Regions from separate parts of the Homo sapiens genome. Here region 2 is linked to region 1. Evidence: fine-mapped expression QTL. Tissue or cell type: lymphoblastoid cells. Region 1 holds a variant in brackets; the other region holds the start of a gene. All regions are shown on one strand. Distances are from middle to middle.

The links. PIP is the estimated chance that this variant, and not a neighbour inherited with it, causes the effect.
Region 2: KATNAL1 starts here. The variant in region 1 is fine-mapped to the expression of KATNAL1 in lymphoblastoid cells (GTEx, PIP 0.95).

The regions. Positions count from the first base shown.
Region 1 is chr13:30,238,868-30,244,019 of GRCh38, forward strand. KATNAL1 (katanin catalytic subunit A1 like 1) reads right to left here. Exons shown (of 11, transcript NM_032116.5): 5 at 2,092-2,219; 6 at 1,593-1,698. LOC102723381 (a long non-coding RNA gene) reads left to right here. Exons shown (of 4, transcript XR_007063741.1): 3 at 2,387-2,455; 4 at 2,741-3,050. Among named protein-coding and RNA genes, the nearest start is that of KATNAL1, 66 kb to the right of the region's middle. The variant A/G (reference allele first, on the strand shown) is at 2,828.
Region 2 is chr13:30,304,354-30,309,505 of GRCh38, forward strand. It overlaps KATNAL1 (katanin catalytic subunit A1 like 1), which reads right to left and starts at 3,198. Exons shown (of 11, transcript NM_032116.5): 1 at 2,978-3,198. RefSeq lists silencers at 2,833-2,942, 2,973-3,202.

The sequences.
Region 1 (5,152 bases):
AAGTGTGCCGCAGAAAGGCACATATAAACCTAAGAAGCTGACACACATTGAATTTTAAATTTTCTAAAGGTCTATTATGGTTGTCACAACCTATTTGGACTTCAATTTTCTAGTATGCCAAATAGTGGGGATTTGAGATGATCTCAAAGACTCATTCCAGTTCTGAAATTCTGGAATTTACATTTTGAGACCAATTTTAGAAGCTTGAAAAATTTCTGAGGTCTCCTTATTTTCATGTATTCTTTAAAATACATTTATCAGGCCTGAAACAGTGGTTTATGCTTGTAATCCCAGCACTTCGGGAGACCAAGGTGGGAGGTTCACTTGAGGCCAGGAGTTCAAGACCAACCTGGCCAACATGGCAAAACCCAGCCTCTACCAAAAATACAAAAATTAGCTGGGCATGGTGGCACGCATCTGTAATTGCAGCTACTCAGGAGGCTGAGGCACAAGAATTGCTTGAACCCAGGAGGCAGAGGTTGCAGTGAGCCAAGATCATGCCACTGCACACCAGCCTGGGCAACAGAGTGAGACTCAGTCTCAAAAAATAAATAAAATACATTTATTGTCCCATTTCAGTAAATAATCTATTCTCACAAATCCCTAAAAAATTCAGACATAACCTTTTAAAAAAACGTAATAGTTCTATTCAAGAATTTTATTCTACTGTTGCAGAAAAAAATTATTTGGTCAGGAAAAAGATTCTTTAGAAATATATCTTTATTTTCTTAATCCAGTTTGCCAATAAATACTACAAAAGCACAGCAAGGACAAAATAAATTGATAAAGTCAGATATTTTGTAATGATACAGAAGTGATTTTTTTTTTTTTTTTTTTGAGATGGAGTCTCACTCTGTTGCCAGGCTGGAGTGCAGTTGCGCGATCTTGGCTCATTGCAAACTCCAACTCGCGGGTTCAAGCAATTCTCCTGCCTCAGCCTCCCGAGTAGCTGGGATTACAGGCATGCACCACCACGCCCAGCTAATTTTTGTATTTTTCGTAAAGATGAGGTTTCACCATGTTGGGCAGGATGGTCTCGATCTCCTGGCCTCGTGATCCACCCTCCTCAGCCTCCCAAAGTGCTGGGATTACAGGTGTAAGCCACGGTACCCAGCCAAGAAGTAGTTTTTTAAAACACAGCTAAAGACCTCTTTTTAGAAAAAACATTTGTTTTCAAGTCAGTGACAAGTAAAACAAAATAATTAACCATCAGTGAGAAATATTCCAACTTTTGAAAACTGTTTGATCACACCTTTCTTCTATAAGACCATATATTATTTCTGCTTAATCTGCTTAACTTTTTATTTATAGAACCATACATCCAGAAAATTCTTAAAACTAATCTCTAGCTCAGCATCCCTGAGTGAAGTGACCTAAAGACTATATAGTTTCAACACTCCAAGCCCATCTCTCCTGCTATGCAGATGTAACACATCACAACTACAAATTCAAATCCAGGTGTTTTGGGTGTACATAAACTTCTCCCAACCTTTTCAAAATGGGTTAAATACATCAAAAACTACAGCAATGCTGCCTTTCATTCCAGTGCCAAGTAGCATTCTTATATCAAAACCAATTTAATAAATTCTCACCTTCCATGGCCTTCTAATCCCTTTGAAAAAGTCAGGCATCCACATTGGAAGAACAACAGCTTCCCTTAGCAACTTCTTAGCTTCTTCCAGATCTGCTATGTCATCCCTTTGAAAGAACAGCAAACTTTCATAATGTTTACTCAGGGATCTTTGATTTATGGTCAAAACTAATTCTTTTAATTTTTTTTTACTTATGAAATTATTCTCATAGTAAGAACATTATTCTAATTCTTACTGCATAAAAAGATCAGTGAAAACATTAGTTATTAATGAGGACATGTCATTGAATTAACAACTTGTCAGTTACACATCAACTTCAAATTAACATGTAAAATGTCCTTGGTTACATTCGACAGAACTGTCTCGTCAATTCTATACTTTCATATTATAGATGTGGTCATAATCAGATTAATGAATAACAAGAGAAAACTCACACACCAAGACAACCTATAATTTGTGTTCTCCTCTACTTTAATTCAATAATTTGAAAGACTCTAACCAATGAATGCTAGGATTCCTGGATACAATGTCTCTTTCAAGGGCTTCCACCAGATCCTTATCATAACCAGCACCATCAAATTTTGGCATTTCACCATCACTTGCACCATCTTGCATATTCTTCCTTCCCTGGGGATAGGTATAAAAAAAAAGTACTAGTCAGTAATGGATAATTTAGTTAACATCATTACGCTTTGAAAACATTATAATGCCATCACTTTCTAAATAATTTTTATTATTTTAAGGTAGTATTTTCTGATTACTCAAATGCCATTCTCCTCTATTTAATTCATCAGAAATACATGAACTGGTCAACTTTATTAAAAACTTCAAATCTACATTCTTGCAGGAACAGTTGCATGCAGGTAAGACTAAACTGATCCTTGCTAGATCCCAAAAGACTGGGAAAGCCTACCTTTGAACTGGTAGACGCAGAGGATTTCCACCACTACTAGAAAACATTTTGAATATTAATGTGGAAGGATCTTTTTAAATAGTATTAAGACCATTAAAGCAATATGCTTTACCCCAAATTCTTCATTTAATAATATAGTTGTTTTAAAAGAAATTTTATGCTATGGTTTCTATGGGGTTCTGCCAAGATTCACACAGCTTTGACGAGCTTTAAATGAAATTCACTTATTTGCCAGAGACAGTCCAACTATGGAAATACTTCAGCAAGCACAGCCAAGTGCCTCCCCAGAGCTTTAGCCCCAGTTACTGCCTAGAGTAAAAAC[A/G]AAACAAGAAAATGGTCAAAATGAGTCAATCTCCTAAACTTCAACCGGAAAAGAGACAAGAGAACAAGACAAACTTCTCCAATCCCACTTCTGAGATAGTCAAAAGGCTCAATCATAAGTGCTGGAGGAAACTAAATGGCTCCCTTGGACAGATGCTCTGGTTCCTTCAAGCCACTAGGTAAGTGACCAAACAGTATTCTGGTACTTCACCCAAAAAAATAAATTATTTCTGGGCAGTATGGCGGTAGCATTAAATTTATTAGTAAATTTTCCCGAAGATTCTTGCATTCCAGATGACAGATATCAATACTGACAATATTAAAAGGAGTAAATTTTTGGCACCTACACAAGAAACATAACATCAACAAACTTAAGCTTAGGCTAGAGTCAAATTTTATAGTACAGATAGGCCAAGGCTACCAAGTCATATTCAAACAAATCACTAGGAACATTCTGTAATCATTTAAAAACTATTCTAGAAACGTATCAACGAAAGAATACAACAGAAACTGACATATCTGGAGCTTGAGCCTTCATATGGCACTGTAATTTACACTTATCAAGTTAAAATTAAAATTTCATTTTAATATGAATGTCCAAGTGGCTGGAAAGAACTTAATAAACACTACCTCAGGAGAAAGAAAAAGCTGCATGCCTATCTGAAAGTAATAGGAGTATCATAGGATTTTAAAAACAGTAAATATTTGGGCATCTTCTACGTGCAATACATGCTATTGTGCATTAGGTTTTAGAGCAGTGAATGAAAATACATTATCTGCCCTCATCAAGCATCTAGTCTAGTGGGGGAAACGAGTAACAAGTAAATAAAGCAAAAACACACATAAACTGTGAAGTGCTGTGAAAAAACCTGAGTAGCCAGTATAATAAAATGTATTGCGCAGAAGAAAGAGGTTGAAGATATGGGCAGAGGTGAGTTTGGATTTCTTCTGGCTCCTATAGAGGACGGGGTAGAGGAGGAGAATCAAAGAACTAAAAGCCTCTCACTACACTGAAGAAGAAGTGTGTGTATAGGCCAGTTAAATGACCTGCCCGAGAACCCAAAGTTTCTCAGTGGTACACATGAGACTTGAATACCGATCGAGGACTACAAAAAAGATTCTGGAAACGTTTTCAAATCAAAATGGTGAGGTTATAAAAAACAGACATAGGAAAACTAAAATTAATTTGGTTATGCCAGGAAATCAGTAAAATGGGTGACAGTTATTCTTCATAAAAAATACTTAAATTAGAATACAGACATCAAATATAAACAGCTAGATTAAATGCAATACCTAAAGGAAACTATTAGTTAAAGGAAATAAAGCTAACCTCTCCAAGATATTACTAAGTGTACATAAATACTACTAACTGCAATGTCACTGAAATGATCTTAGAATTCTTTCCTTAGATTTTCATATGAGTTGACTAAGGTCAACATTAGCAAGAATTTGATTTTTAGCATGAAGGTTGATATACTTTTTTTCTCATGAAAGCAAAATATTTTAGCTTCTTTTTACTAACATCAAAATTTCCCATATCAAGAAAGCTTTGTTACTCATCTTTCATTAGTGTTGGATAATCTTCTATTTGAGGAAAATTAGGCTCAAAGTGACTAACCAAATATTACAGAGCCAATTAATGATATAGTTTGCCCTAAAATGCAAATGTTTCTTACATTTTACTATGCAACCTCTCACACTGGCAGATTAAGTAAAACATGATCAGTTACTAGCTCTGGGTCTTGCATTTTAAGAGAAATACTGATAAATTACACCCAGGGAAGAATAATCAAGATGATAAAGGGTTCAAAACCCATGTCATATGGAGGAAGACCAAGGAAACTAGAGACATTTAAGCTGAAGAAGTAAATTCTAATGGGGCAATACAACCAACAGGCCTACTAGGTATTAAGCCAAAAAAAAAAAAAAAAAAAAAAAAAGCAAGGGCCAGTAACAAAAGAGATAGATTTCAGATCAGCAAAAGAAAGAATTTTCTAACAATAGATTCTGTCCAACAGACGAATCAACTCATTAGGTAGTAAGCTACCACGCATCGGAAATTACTGGCCAATTAGTAATAAAAATCACTGGGTCATAGTCACACGGATGTCTAAGCTTAATTATAGCTGATCTTTTTCCTGTAAAGCCACTGCCTCTCACTTGCCTAATTTATTCATCTGTTGCCTGATTTCAATGGCCCAAGGAAAGTGCAAAATTTCTTGGAAATCTCATTATTTTTCTTTTTTTTAAATTATACTTTAAGTTCTAGGATACATGTGCAGAACGTGCAGGTTTGTTCCATAGGTATACACGTGCCATGGTCATT
Region 2 (5,152 bases), 65 kb after region 1:
CTGCCTCCTGGGTTCAAGCTATTCTCCTGCCTCAGCCTCCTGAGTAGCTGGGACTATAGGTGTGCGCCACCATGTCTAGCTAATTTTTATATTTTTAGGAGAAACGAGGTTTCACCATCTTGGCCAGGATGGTCTCGATCTCTTGATCTCCTGATCTGCCCGCCTCAGCCTTCCAAAGTGCTGGGATTACAGGCGCGAGCCACTGCGCCCGGCCTACACACATTTCTTAAATGAGAGTTCCATATCCAAACCTCTTCCTTTTTCTTTTCTACTCATTACTCCAATGTGAGCTGGTCCATTCTCCCTTGTAGCTTTAATTACTTATCTATATGCAAACTTCTAACTCCAGCCTGCTCTCTCTGAACTCCAGACTAAAATGCACCTCCACCTGAATATCCCATAGGAACCTCTAACAAATGCTCAAAACTCAACTAATATCTTTATATTTCACCCCAATAAAAACCAGCTCCTCCTCATCTCAATCAACGGATTCACTATTACCTCAGTCATGCTAGCCAGAAACTGAGGAATCAATCAGCTAAGAGTTCCAAATCTAACTCCCAACATCCAAACTCTTATCAAGTCATATCAATTTTATCTCTTAAATATTCCTTGAATCCATGTCTTTCTGTAACTCCAAATGCTTAATTCAGACTCTCTTCACTTCTCTACTGGACTTTGTTTTTTTCTATTATACAACTGGCTTTTCTACTACCTGTAATGTTTCCCCTCCCAGGTCCATTCTCTACACTGGGGCTGGAGTTATCTTTCTAAAATACAAATCTGACGCCACCACCACTCTAGCTAAAATTCTTCAATGACTGCCCTATATCAAGAAAAATTCTAAACTCTGAATATGGTGCCAAGTACTTTAAGATCTGGCCTCACCCACTAATTGCAAGTATTCTGGGATCCAGTCATTCAGAACTACCTAGCGTTTCCCAAATACAAAATACTGATTCTTCAATCTATCCTTTGCTTATTTTGTGCCATCCATTTGTCCTAGAATGACTTTCCTCATCATCACTCCAGTGAAAGCTTATTCAACTATTTTAACACAAGTTAAAAGTCAAATCACACTGAAGGCCTCCCCTGACTTCCTTAGACAGAGTCAGGATCTTTCTACTAAATGACAGAGAATGGTCAGTGCTTGAGATCAGGACCAGACCCACCTGGGCTGAAATCCCAGGTTCACACGTTACCAGCTATGATTTTGAGCAAGGCCTCTAAAGCCTGTTTCCTCATCTCTAAAAATCAGTAACTACTTCACCAACTGTTTTGAGGATTAAGTAAGGAGTTGCATGCAAAATACTCCTCACAGCACCTGACATATTCAATAAATGTTACTGTTATGTGATTATTTCCTCTGGGCTCCTAGAGCAACTTGCACTTATCTCTACCACACTACTGTGATGACAAGACTGCCCATGCAGGATACAGACTATCTTTTTTCATCTCTTTATTCTCACCACCTGGCATAATGCCTGGCACATAGGTTCCTAACACATTTTGAATGAATAAATAAAATACTTCAAACCTTATGTTGTATCACATAAGGCCTCAATTTTGTTTTCTACCTGTCTTACTAAACCTACTTTCCATCTCCTCCTTGTACAAAATTGCAACCTCAAGTAAAATTTACACAGGTCAACTTCATTTTAATTAAGAGAAAGTTTTATAGGATTTGTGGTCTTTTTGTTTTTAAACACACACACACACAAACTCACAATAATATCAACAATTCTCCAACTTACTCCATAAAGCAGCAAATTTCTAGGATGGTTATCTACCTATTAAAAAATTTTAAAGGGTCGTCAAGGAAGGTTTCGTAAATCTGTGTCAGCTTCCTTTACCAGCAAGTCTTTGAGTCAACTCTAAGGACTCAAGTGTACTCCTGAACATAAAAAATATATAAAGAATTAACTAAATAATTAAAACATGGTATTTTTCCTTCCGAAAACATGCTGAGAAATTCTGAATAACACTGGAATAATCAAAGAATTATTGCTGCCTACTGCTAAAAAAGTCTGTTTTTAAAAGTTACTAGTAATTTAAAGCTGAACTAATCAAAATATGTGTAGGCAGTGTTCAGGCTGGCAAGGGGGGGGTGGGGTGGAGCACTCATTTCACAACCTTGAACCTCAAGAAATAAAATTCAAAAATGCAAAAAGTTAAAAATGCCAGATACCACCATATAATCGCAATGACATCTTTTTATCTATTTCCACACTTAACCTTTAAACATTACTGCCCTTTGAGTAATTACCAATTGATGGGTTTAATATGCAAACACCTCTGAGCTACTTTAAAACAAACATGACTAACCCAGAAATAAACGTATCCAGGAAAGGAGAAAAACCTGTTAAAACACGGTTTCTCAGGTCTCACATCCAATGTGTGACATACATACGGTTCTGCACCGAAAGGCAGCAACCTGCGAGGGTCAGAGGCGCCGAAGACCCGAGGCCCTGCAGCTTGGGCGGCTGCTCATCCCTGAGACTGTGCAGGGCGGTGGCCCAGCCGGGGTGGGGCTGAGCGCTGCAACTGGGGCGGGCCCAGCTACAGGGCGGGAAGCCCGAGGCTCACCTCCACTTCCCTTTCCCAACGCACAGAGCCCAGGTCCGCGACCACTCAACAGCCCCCTCAAGACAAAGAGAGATTTTTTTTTCTGTCCCGGTCCGCTCAAAGTTTATCGGTCTTTCCCGGCGGTCGGGGCCGCCGGGCTTTGTAGTTCGCCAGTCCGAGCTACCCCACCAAGACCGCGAGCCCGAGGAGTCGCTGAACTACAATTCCCATGATGCACCGCGAGCCTGGCGCTCCCGCGCCCCTCCCCGTCCCCGCACGGGAGCCAGCGCCCGAGGAACCCCGCAGCCCACTGCCCTGGCGTCTCCGGCAGTGGGAGGCCGAGAGGGGCTGTTGGCTAGAGCCCTCCACCACCTGCTGTCTCGCCCTCGCCCCTTTCTCTCGGATTCATTACCCAGAAGGCGCAGGTCCGGGCACATTCAGCGATGCGGTCCAGATGGGGTGCGGGTGGGGCGCAGGCCGCCGCCGCCGCCGCCGCCGAGTCCGTTAGCTCGCGACGTGCGTGAAAAGGCGGCGGCGGCGTAGTGTTGCCATGGCAGCCGCGGCCGCGCGGTGGGCGCAGCGCGGGAGGGAGCGCGGGGGCTGTGAGTCCGCTCTGGGGCGGAGCTTGGGACTCCCGCCCAGGTTGCCGGGGGGAGGGAGGTGCAGCGGCGCGGGGTGGGAGAGCAGGGAGACAGTGACATTGAGGAGGACGTGTGGCCGACTGAGCTCTGGTCGTGCTTGATGAGCCTGCCTCCACTGCGTCCAGCCCCCGTGGCAGGGCACCTTCGTGCCTGCTGCTTTCGGAGGTGATGCCAGTGGCGTCGAAGGAGGGGGCACCCGGGGCGTCGCAGCGCCTTTCCCGCCGCCTGTCCAGGCGTCCGCCGCTGGGTCTGCCCCCAAGGGATGTGTGGATCCTACGCCACCTCTGTGTTTTTCTCCAGTCAAACCGAATTGAAGTCTTTCGCACCCCCTTTCTCCATTCTCTGGGGAGGGGGATAGAAGGGAATCCTTCGATAAGATGGAATGCATATGGCCTTTAGGATTATTCAGGAGGTTTTAGAATTTGCAAATGGCATTGCTTTCGACTGAATTTGGATTTATGCTGTTTCTTGGCAATCGTTTGTGGACTCTAGGATAAACAGGTTAAGAGCGTGGGCTTCTAAAACGAATTCTTAGTTCACGTCCTGCCCCTGTGCTTGGTAGCTGATGACCAGAGGCGCCTTTCTCACCTCTTAACGTTTTGATCTGCAAAAATGGAGATATCCATCTTGCAACTCTTGTAAGAAATACACGCATTAATACTGATGAAGCTCTATAAAACAAAGCTTAGCATTTAACAATAGCTATTAAATATTAATTATTTAATCAATAGTGATAAAAGTCAGAATAGTGGTTGGCTGTCGGGGAGGAGTTTGAGAGAATTTTTTGTAGTGATGAAAAAATTCTATAGCTAAGAGTTTCGGTTACAGAAGTATATGCACTTGTCAAAACTCTTGGAATGGGACATTTAAGATTTGTACATTTCACTGCATGTAAATTTACCTCAAAAGAGAACATAAAAATGTGTTGTTATTATTATTAGAGCTATAGACTCTAATGGAAACTACAGAGATATTCTAGGCCCAATCTCTAGATTTTATAGATGGGAAAACTGAGGCCCAGAAATTTAATAGAAAAAAAGAGGAAGGGGAGTGAATTCGTGACCTTGTCATTTTCTAGTAATGAATATCTCCTGAAAAATTATGGTTGAAAATAACAAAAATGGCTCCTGTAATCCAGCTGAGTCATCCTACCACAGAGATTTTCTTGAACTTGACTGAGTCCCTTATCCACCTTGTGGTGTTCCCCACGGCCAATGTCCTCTCAAGGATTGCACCGTCACTTCTGGCTCTCAGTTCTTGCTTTTCCTGAACACTTAGACCTCTCCACATATCACCTCTTACAACTCTCCTCTCTCTACTCCTGCTGACACATAATTTCGAAATCAGCCCCTTTTCTTTGGTTGTTTCTATAGCCAACTCTTTAGAAGGTTTGGAGCAGATAAGTGGTTTTAAATTAAGGATGCAAAAAACCTAAAATTAGAAATCCCTGCTCTTAAAAGTCCTTCAGTTCCTCCCATGATATTTTTATCCACCTACCACCTACCCCCATTTTTTCATCATAACCTGTAACCTCCCACTATTGTACCATCTTTCTGGTCCCATCTCTCCCCTCCTCTCCTCTCTTTATACAATACTTTTATTTCCATCTCCTAATCTGTGCCTTCATAGCTACCTGCCATTCCTAAACTGTTTACCAAAGTTTTTTCCTACACAAAGTAACTTCCCAAGAGGAACTCTGGAGCCAGCTATTAAAATAATATTTTTTCACATATGTATCCTCATATTCTATTTGATTCAGTCCACAGTGTAGCTGCTCAATAAATATTAAGCAGCTTACGTACATGACCTGTTGATATAGTTTGGCTGTGTCCCCACCCACCTCTCACTTTATTGTAATAATTCCCACCTGTCAAGGGCAGGGCCAGGTGGGGATAATTGAATCATGGGCGCGGTTTCACCCGTACTGTTCTTATGGTAGTGAATAA